Regions from separate parts of the Homo sapiens genome. Here region 2 is linked to region 1. Evidence: fine-mapped expression QTL. A gene starts in region 1. The other region holds a variant in brackets. All regions are shown on one strand. Distances are from middle to middle. Region 1 holds the start of TNFAIP8 (TNF alpha induced protein 8). Region 2 overlaps TNFAIP8 (TNF alpha induced protein 8).

Region 1 (5,231 bases):
AGACATTCTTAAGAACTCATGGTGATCTCACACTAAATGGGATACATAAGTTCACCAGGATGAAAAAAAAAAAAAAAGCTACGTATAAGAGGAAAAGGACTAGTAACGATAGAGAAGATAACTGAGTTATTTACACAACATAGCTCGCTTCATCGACATCTGAGTGGTGGTAGCTAACCAGAAGGTTCTAGATTACAGCCAATGAACCAGCCTTGGAGAAAACACACCCAAAACACACAGACACCTATCCTTCATTTCCTGGCAGAAGCTATATGATTCTATCTGATTAATAAAGTGTTCAATCTCCCTCAAGAGTTATTCAGTATCCCACCCTAATTGCTATCAATTTAAAATTCTACTACCTCAGATTATTTTAAAAGAAACATTCTGGGCTTTCTTTAAAAAGCAGAGCGCCATATCATTTGTGGCCGATCTGCAGAATGTAAATGATGACAAGTGGAGGGAAGGTGAGGAACAAGCAGAAGGGGCCCCATTAACCTCTTCATAGGCCAGTTTGCAGGCTGCTTCCAAACTTAAAACCAGAGAGCTGGGCCCTCGAGGAGGGAAGACTGTGGATGTTGCTATGGGAATGTATAATACACACTTTGGGATACTGTTTTTCCACTTTCTCTCCCACTCTCTCTTTCTCAAAAGACAGGGAAAACACACCTGAGAGAAAACGCCAGCTTAAGTGCTACTTGTAATTCACACAGAAGTTCACCCTTGAGTTCTCTCAGCCTGGTTCCTATTTGCCTTCAACTACCTTTGACTTTGAATAAACTGCTGGTATAAAGACATAGAAAAGAAAAGCATCTATCAGCACACAGCTCCATCAGAACACAGGACACGGCAAGAAAGCATTACTCCCCCCATACTCCACATCAAACTCAAAAACAATGCTCCTGGCTGTCATTTTTCATTCATGCCAGCCCCGTATTTCTATTAAACAAACCTCCTTTTTATTGACTATTTCCCTCACACAGCATAATAAGGTAAACGTGAGCCCACAAAGACTACATGGTGAAACACAAAGCTTTCCTCTGGGAGGGGAATCAGTAAAAGGCAGAAGAGGACAAGTTTCAAGGGCTCTTCCTAACTGGTGTCTACCAAATGGAGAAATGATGGGGCTGCTCCTCTGCCAGAACTGCTGTGATTGACTTGAAATTAACCAGCTTTCCAAGAGACTACATGAAAAGAAAGAGTATTTCACAATCTTGAATAGTCTCCTCTCTTACTCTCTAATTTTCCCCAACCACCCTTACTCCCACCCCCCACTTACAAGAGAACTTTTGTATACATAAAGTTTCAAGGAACAAAGCATACAAACACTCACACACAAATAAACTCCCCAAACTAACACCAGCGTATAATTGTGTTTTGGTTGGAGCTTTTCCAGCCCTGTCACCTGTTCTCTGTTAGGAGTAAATGAAACCCTTTGCTTTTGCGAAGTTAGAAACAGACAAACTCTTCTCAGTTTCAAGCTGCACAAGGACCCCCTCATATCTTTCAGCCCCCTCAAACCCCCAACGAAATGAACTCACTGCTGAAAACCCAGCAATGAAAAAAAATTAATCTATTTCTCAAATACAGATTTTCGCTTCCCCTCACTCAGCTTCCCCTTTTAGCCGGAAACATATAGCGTTTCTAATTTCTCAAACCCCTTTTCAAGGGACCCTCCACTCAGGGCTCTTCCAGGGATCCCGCTTTCAGTCTTTCTGATGCAGGCAGGCAGCCCTTTTCCAAGCACATTTTGCATTCTTGGAGTCCAAGTGGGGCTCTTTCGTTTCCAGAGAAAGCTAAAAAGCAGACTTAGTGGGCTGGCTGAACTAGGTCCGACTTTTCCTCCCCTCCCCTCTGAACGGCTGCGGGGGGAGAAGGGAGCCCAAGATGAGACCCGGGCTCCGCTTATCCAGCTCCGACTTGGCTTCGAAGGCGCAGGGCAAGCGGACAAAGTGCCCACCGCTCACTTTAAAACTCCCATCCTCTTCTACCACTGCCTTCCTCCAAATTCCTCCGCAGAACTTGGCCGGCCCCCAGGAGAAACCAGAATCCTACCTTCCTTGGATTCTTCTGCTTCGGAGTGCATAATGTCAGGATAACCAGCTGCAGGGGCGATTACCGCTCACATGTACTCGGACGAGCCGCAAGTTCGCTCTGCAGCGAAATCCGCACACGACGGAAAATAAAAGGAAGAAAGCCACTAAAATCAAAACCTCCCCGGGGCGGGAGAGCGGGTTCTGGTGCAGGGATTTTCAGGGGGAAAGTTCTGCAAGAGTGACGAATCGCGTGTCAGCTGGGCGGCGGGAGTCCGCCCCCGGAGCCGCGCGCTCGGGCCGGCAGCCGGGCGGAGGCGACCTGGCGGGGCTGGCTCGGCCCGGGCGCACGCAGGTGGGGCACAGGCCCAGACGGCAGCCGACTCTCCCGAGACACAGGGCCGAGAAGAACCGTCGGCAAACGCACCAGACGGGCGGAAAAAAAGGTATAAAAAGAAAAAAAAAGTCTCATCTCAGAGCACACTGTAGTTTTACATAAATAGCAAATGCATATAGGGTAGAACCAATGCCTCTGTATTTTTGGATTACATTTTTTGATGCCCATTTGACTTTGTCTTGGAGTCTTGCAACCCAAAAATTACGGATTTTAAAGCGGCTTTGGTATGTTATTTTTGTAGGAAAGTCGCATGGATATCGTCCATGGGGTTGCAAGGACCAGCTTAAGAGAGCACAATTTCACAAGTCCCAGAGCGGGGCCTTTTGAAGAAAGTGGAGCGGCCTCCACCCTTACCTTTGCACAGCAAAAGCAGACGGGGCTGCTTACTCATTCAGTATAGCCCCGGGCGAGCACTGGTACTCCAAGCACAGCCCGGGCACTCATTGCTGCAGTTACTCCAAAGGGCCTTCCTCAGGGGGAGAGCACGGTTCCCTCCCGGCTACCAGCAAAAACTGGGGATGAATTCCTTCAAAATGCCAAAGGGGAGGTTTTCAGGATTTGAAATGCTGATAGAATAAAGAAGCCGGACAGCCTTCACAACAGATCTCAATTCTGCCCCCGGGTCTGGCCCACAGGCCCCTACAAATTGGCTGAGAGGAAGTCCCCTTAGCTCTGTGGAGCCTTGGTTTTCCCTTCTGCAAAGCGGGGACAAGAGCTGCCACTGATAGGCCTGTCTTACGGAGGTATTTTGTAGAACACTTGTTTTATCGCCAGTCTGAGGCAAAAAGTCCTCAAATAACATATCTGAAAGATCCGCTTGGAAATTATGAGAAAAAAATATACTCTTTTGACAAATTTATTTTCCAGTTCGTTTCTTTTTCTTCGTTTCCGATTTTATATAGGCAAAAACCAATAGAAACACTATGGCAAATTTAGTGAAAAGAACGTACAAAAGACATGGATTTAAGGAGTCTGAACTTAAATCCAGTTCTGCCATCTATCATTTGTATGACCTTATGCAAATTAACCTCTCTGAGCCTCCAGTTCCTCATTTGTAAAATGAAGATAAAAATAGTATTATTTACTTCACAGATTTATGTCTGTATTAAATAAGGTAATATAAGCACAAAGGGATTTGAAAACCATAAGGACTACATAGATTATTACCATTGCACCATTAAAAGTAAATTTTTATAAAACATACTCTTGGGTTTTATTTCAGTATTGACTTTGAACAGAAAAGAGTGCTTATGCTATTCACAAGCAGTGAAGGCTATTATAAATATTAATGTAAGAGGTCTAGATATTAAATCACATCCTACTGCTGAGAGATTCTAACCTGCCTAAGATTCTAACATGTTATCTCAATTTCACTGAAAGAGCAGGATGAAGGGAGGAAGATATAGCCAGCCAGAGAAGGGAGAAGAGGAGAAACATCTGGAAAATATCAGTGTTGCAGAGCCTCCCGGAAACTGACCTCGCCACCGAAAGGGTAACAGACTGCACCCTTCCGAAAGTCACAGTTAACTTCATGGTCCCCTCTGCCACACATCCTGAGTCAGGAGCTGCTGATATGTATACCTTGCACTCAGTAATCTCAGACTTATGGGGAGATACACTGAGATGAGGATGATTCTGAACCCAAAGAAATGCTCCCTCACCAGTCACAAGTGGCTTTTCCTGTCCTGCCCAAGTCAACATTCTGCCCCTCTCTCCCTATACCATCTATCCTTGCCCTTCCTCACTGCAACCCAGATGTCCACAGATAGTCCACAAGAGATCTTAAGGGATCTCACCAGGGCCGTGTGCTACACAAGAGAGCTTCCACTGATCTATAATTGGGGTAAAGCAACACCTTTTCAAGGTGATGATTATGCAAATCCAGACAACCCAAATTTCAGGCCCAATCTGCCTACAGCAGAATTACTTTCACTCTCTTCTTTTAGAAAGTACCCTTACAAGAAATATTTATTAAATGTCATTTTGCAAGTCCAACTGGGGACAAACCACATAAGATATGTTAAAATACATGTCCTTTAATGTGCTACTTGTTTTACAACTGCTGAATGAATAGTTCAAGCGCTCCGTCAGCCTTATAATTCATTTTAGATTCATGTTAGCTTCGTTGATCTTTGAACATTCACCATCGGCCTCAGGAAGCCTGGAGAGAAACTTCTTTTGTATTTAAATGCAAGCAAGCAGTCACCTTGGGGAAGAATGCTCTGTTTTAGCTCAAGAGCAATGAATGCTCAGCTTATTTTAAAAGGCTTTATGTGAATAAGTACATTCCTCAGTCTCCCGTATAACCTCAAAGCCATCTGCTCTGGGCAGGCTGCATTGCCCCATACCCCTACCCTGCAACATGGTGACAAAGGGCAGCTGATTCTCTAGGGCTCCCCTTGGCCTTCTGCTGCTCTCAGATATGTACTAGGTCATTTTGATTTTGCTGTGCTTTTATTCAAAAGGGGATAATTTACTTCTTAGCCCCAGTGAATAATGGTCCAGTACATCATAATGATTTGTTATCTCCTGTAGGTGGGACTTGTTGATTCTTGTATGTTTAAGAAACACCCCAAACATCCTTCACATGGCAACATGTATGGAAGTCATACCAACAAACTATTACCGCCCGCCTGATACAAAATTGCAACTAAGTTAGCAACACTTCTCATTTAATAACAAACTGTACTTAAATTTAAATACTATGTTGAACTCCTGCAAGTGTCTAATAATGGAACTCCCACCTTTTGTGTCAAGATGGAAGAATGAAAATGGTAGCTAAGATTCTGAAGGTTTATTCA
Region 2 (5,231 bases), 38 kb before region 1:
TCCGGCTGGGACACCTCGAGCACATGTGACCTCAGGAAATTCCTTAACTTCTATTCCCCTAGTTTCCTTATCTATAAGATGGTGAAGATTGTGGCAGAATTAAATGAGTTAATGTGCCCGACACATAATACAAACTACTCTGCGTTAGTTGTCCATTAGTATTATCATCCACTTATCATATCCACTCATAATTTTTGCAGAGAAGCCACCAGCACAAAATAAAATCAATTACAACACAATTTTTTTCAAAACGTGAACAGATACTATTTTATAAAAAGGTTCATAGGATCCCCAAATTAGTATTAACTCGGCTCAGATTTATCTACCCTAAGCACGTGGGGATTCTTCCCAGCTCCCACGCTCCTTGCCACCCTAAATGCTCAAGGGGAGTCCTATTGTATTAGAAATGAACTTGCTAATCACGACTTTGGACCTGATCCAAGACATGCTTTTCAGGCACAGCACTGGTAAGGAGATGGGTCCCCTCCAGAAAATGCTGAGAAATGGTAGCAAACAGGATTCCCTCCTTCGGTCTACTCCTCACTGCCTTCCCTCTGTGGGAGATGAAGCATTGCTCCCCCAATCCCATGCACATTTGATTGCTAGCCTGCTGGCACAACCCTATGATCCAGTGTGTCCAGAGAGATCCAGATTTCTCCCTCCGTACGTTTTCTCTCTCTGGTTGGTCCTGTCTATAGCTACAGATGAGCAAGAAGCATCCATGGACTGCCCAGGGCTTTCGTTTCCCATACCTCTGCTGTTTGAGATCTGGAGAACAGAACACATCCAGTCAGTAGCTCACACCCCCCATCACATTCTCAGCCTTCACATGTGAGGAAAACAGCTGGTCAAGGAAGGCTGCTGAATTCCATTTATAAGCCACTTAGCAAGTTATGAAGCTAGAAGGGTCATTTCTGTAGTCACTGTGTTATTGTTACAGCATATACTGATCACCTACTGGCTCTAGGAAGTGAGAATGATACTTTCAGTTCAAATCTTAGTGTCAGGATTTAATATCAAACAGGAAGAAACTCTACACCTTTGCTGCTTGTCTTAGCCAAGCAAATGAGGGTGTCAGAGAAACTGACCACCCTCTCTAGGCTGAAATGGGTTAGAGCAGATCTCAACTTCTGGAATTTTTAGTTGTGGAACCTTTCCTGGTAAACTATTATTTTAATGTCAATATTCTGGGAGGCAGGCAAATTTAAGGCAAGAGAGTACACTAAATCATAGGCACAGTGGCTCACACCTGTAATCCCAACACTTTCGGAGGCCGAGGCAGGCAGATCATTTGAAGTCAGGAGTTCAAGACCAGCCTGGGCAACATGGTGAAACCCCATCTCGACTAAAAATACAAAAATTAGCTGGGTGTGGTGGTGCATGCCTGTAATCCCAGCTACTTGGGAGGCAGAGGCAGGAGAATCACTTGAACCTGGGAGGCAGAGGTTGCAGTGAGCCAAAATCATGCCACTGCATTCTAGCCTAAACAACAGAGCGAGACTCAAAAAAAAAAAAAAAAAAATCATAGACACAGTGACAATGGAAATGTTTATTGCTGGTGGTTGGGTCTGTCATTTCCTAGAGGACATAGCTGGCCAGCAGATTTTCATTTCTTTTTTACAAAATAAACAAATGCCTACTTTATTATTTATACACAGAAAATTATATAGAAACACCACACAAACTGCTTGAAATACAAATATTCTTTGGTTTACTTATCAAAGTAAAAAATAACAAAAATCTTATCAGTTAAATAAAAAAGTGACATTCTTTATCAAGCCTTCTTAAACACTGAAACGCACGCATTTTTATGCTCATGTTCTTTAGCAGTATTTCTCCCCTTTTGCCCCTCATTCCCCTAAATTGTTTCAATGAGTTCATCTGTAGAATGAAGATTGTTACCTTTCTTAATGCTACTTACTTTTTATTATCTCAATATCAAGACCAATCTAGACTTTTTTGTCTCTTACATGTGAAATGGATGTAAAAAATGGAAAATTCACCAGCACTTTTTAAGATAACATAAAAGAAGCCCTAAGCAAGCATTTCAAGGCAATGACACACCATTACATTTCTGAGAAATTTAAGTATCATTGGTACTTAAAAGGAGAACTCAATTCCAGAAGCATATTCTTATACTGGACATTATTCATAATAGCTAATATAGTTCATTTCCACAGTACTGATTTCAGATAAGCCATTTTTTTTTTCCTGAGGGTTGACTACCTCAGACTTAAATCCTGAATGTCGATGACTCAATCTTAACAAAACAGTCAGCTGTAGACATGAAAATTGAATTGTTTCAAAAGGAGCAATGATAGCAAGAGAAAGTTCTTGGCATTTTAAGAAAAGTACATATACATAGCAAGAAATGAAAGTAAATCAAAATACATAGCTTTGTACATGTTAGAAATATCCAATGTGCCACCAACACAACAACTGCCCTATTAAAAAGTCCTCAGGTCTGGAGACATCTGTATTTTTCTTTGTATAACTACATTTGCATTACCCAACCACATATCTCTCCCATGGTCTGTTACCC[G/A]TTAGGAAGCTTTTAACCAGAATTTTTGGCAATATGCTTTTCTTCAAATAAAACAAGCCTTCAAATAAATCATTATGTCTGACAACTGAATTGGGTAAAGTCTTTCTGAAATATGTGTAATCTTTAGAAAATTCTTCTTTTTTCCTTCATAAATCAGCAGTGCTCCATCTTCAAATAAATCATGATCAGTCACAATCTTAACTCATGTGCTCATATGTTCTCTTCATCCAACATTTTGTTGATACCATCACATAGTTTTTGTAAGTGGGGTTTAAAATTCCCAAAAGGATTATACAAGGCAGCCAAAAATTCACAATCTGAAAAATGATCAAACACATTATTAACCCGTCCATGTGACTTGGCAGTGAGGTGGCGCTGAATGATTTGGTGCAGCATCTCTCTGCATTCATTTAACAGCCTGGATAACACATTCCGGTCAAAGGTATAATCCACCTGATGGAAACTGACCACGGTCATAGCAAGCTGATGAACTTTCTTCTTAAATTTCTCCATCAATGCTAGCTCATCTTGATTAAACTGATTATTCCTATAAAGAATGGCCAGCTTGATGACTGTCTTGATGAGGTTCTTGATGATCTTCTCTGCCTCCTTCTTGTTTTGGGTGTACTCCCTGGTCACTCTGTAGAGCTCATCCAGCACCTCACTACTTGTGTCGTCTATTAAGGTGGTGGCGATGGATTTGGACACCATTTTACCCAAGATCTTCTTTTGTGCCTGAACGGCCAGGTTTTTGGAATTAAAGACATCTGTGGCCACTAAAAAAAAAAAAAGAGAGGAAAAGAATTAACAATTAGTAAATATCAGCAAGTGAAGCGAACTAAAAACAGGTATTTGGGAGCACTTTTTTTCCTCATTTTCCCACCATTTGTGGTTTGTCTTACATCTACCGACATTAGTCTCTGTTCAGAAAAGAATTTTTGGCTGGGTGGAGTGGCTCACACCTGTAATCCCAACACTTTGGGAGACTGAGGTGGGCAGACCACTTGAGATCAGGAGTTTGAGACCAGCCCGGCCTACATGGGCGTGGTGGTGGGCACCTATAATCCCAGCTACTCAGGAGGCTGAGGCAGAAGAATCGCTTGAACCCAGGAGGCGGAGGCTGCAGTGAGCTGAGATTGCTCCACTGCACTCCAGCCTGGGTGACACAGCGAGACTCTGTCTCAAAACAAAAAAAAAAATACAAAATCAACTCTATACCTGTCATCTGGGCAACAGCAACCACAAGCGATTTAAAAGAAATTCATTTAAATGGAAGAAGAACAAATGGCAAAGCCATAATATTGAGTAAAATGGCAGATTAAGCAAATCAAAAGGAAAGCCTTGTTTTATAATCCGGTTGCAAAAAGTCAAATTTCCCAAGACATTGGCCAGTGCCTACCAATTTGGCTGTCCTAAGTACCTTGAATTTCAGCCTCCAGAAGTCGAGTGTTGAAAAGAAGTGCTCCTTGGAGAGCTCATTGTCACTTGCTATTTCTGATGAATGGCCATTGTTCACTTTACATTTTTACACATTTTGGGGAAATAACCTTTTCATGAGCTAATGAAATGTGCTACATGAAAAATATACTTTGAAAAAGCTGTTGCTTAGAGTTTACTTTTGGAATTATAACTTCTGACAGATGTTTACAATATACATAATAATGGCTATACATATTAAATATTAAACAGACACTATATGTAATCTTCCCACCTTAGAGCTGGTCAAGTGAAAATGCTCAATAAATGTTTATTCTCCAAACCAAGTTTACTTTTCTTCTACCACAATTTTCCCCACTCCATGCATGTAGCAATCTTTTTTTTTTTTTTTTTTTGAGACGGAGTTTCACTCTTTTTGCCCAGGCTGGAGTGCAATGGCGTGATCTTGGCTCACTGCAACCTCCACCTCCCGGGTTCAAGTGATTCTCACAACTCAGTCTCCAGAGTAGCTGGGATTATAGGCACCCTCCACCATGCCCGGCTAATTGTGTATTTTCAGTAGAGACGGGGTTTCACCATGTTGGCCAGGCTGGTCTCGAACTCCTGGCCTCAGGTGATCTGCCCATCTCAGCCTCCCAAAGTGCTGGGATTACAGGCATGAGCCACCGCACCTGGCCCATTTCTCTCGCTTCTCCTAAGGCTTAAGAACTGCAGTTCTTTGGGTGTCTACTCAATCTCTGAGTCGAGTGGCAACTGTTCTCTCCATATATGCCAGTGTTTAAGCCTAGGCCTGGGTATCAGAAAGCAGTCATTTGGTAATGAAAGATAAAAAGTTTAAAAATACAGATACATACAAATGAGTCAAGGCATCAATGATTATATAAGATTATTTCTAGTTTGGATAGGCTAGCATCATTAGGAAGCAAAAAGGCAGCTGCTTCAAAATCCAGACTGGGAAGACATATAGGAAGAGTGACTCCCTTAATCCAGAACTGCCATGTTGGATTTAAAATTGGGGAAAGGCGGGGTGTGGTGGCTCACACTTGAAATCCCAGCACATTGGCAGGCCCAGGTAGGGAGAGGATCACTTGAGCCCAGGAGTTTGACACCAGCCTGGGCAACATAGCAAAACCCCATTGCAACAAAAAACTACAAAAAAAAAAAAAAAATTAGCCAGGTGTGGTGGCATGCACCTGTAGTCCCAGTTACTAGGGAGTTGGAGGTGGGAGAATAATCTGAGCCTGGGAAGTTG

The links. PIP is the estimated chance that this variant, and not a neighbour inherited with it, causes the effect.
Region 2: its variant is fine-mapped to the expression of TNFAIP8 in whole blood (TOPMed, PIP 0.97).

What each region holds. Positions count from the first base shown.
Region 1 is chr5:119,352,946-119,358,176 of GRCh38, reverse strand. TNFAIP8 (TNF alpha induced protein 8) reads right to left here and starts at 2,158. Exons shown (of 2, transcript NM_014350.4): 1 at 2,056-2,158. The coding sequence starts at 2,086. LOC102723444 (a long non-coding RNA gene) reads left to right here and starts at 2,404. Exons shown (of 5, transcript XR_007058912.1): 1 at 2,404-2,479; 2 at 3,811-3,922. RefSeq lists silencers at 1,472-1,531, 1,329-1,623, 2,252-2,411 and an enhancer at 3,062-3,201.
Region 2 is chr5:119,390,903-119,396,133 of GRCh38, reverse strand. TNFAIP8 (TNF alpha induced protein 8) reads right to left here. Exons shown (of 2, transcript NM_014350.4): 2 at 1-3,318. The coding sequence ends at 2,753. Among named protein-coding and RNA genes, the nearest start is that of TNFAIP8, 37 kb to the right of the region's middle. RefSeq lists an enhancer at 1,048-1,097 and a silencer at 4,911-5,068. The variant G/A (reference allele first, on the strand shown) is at 2,543.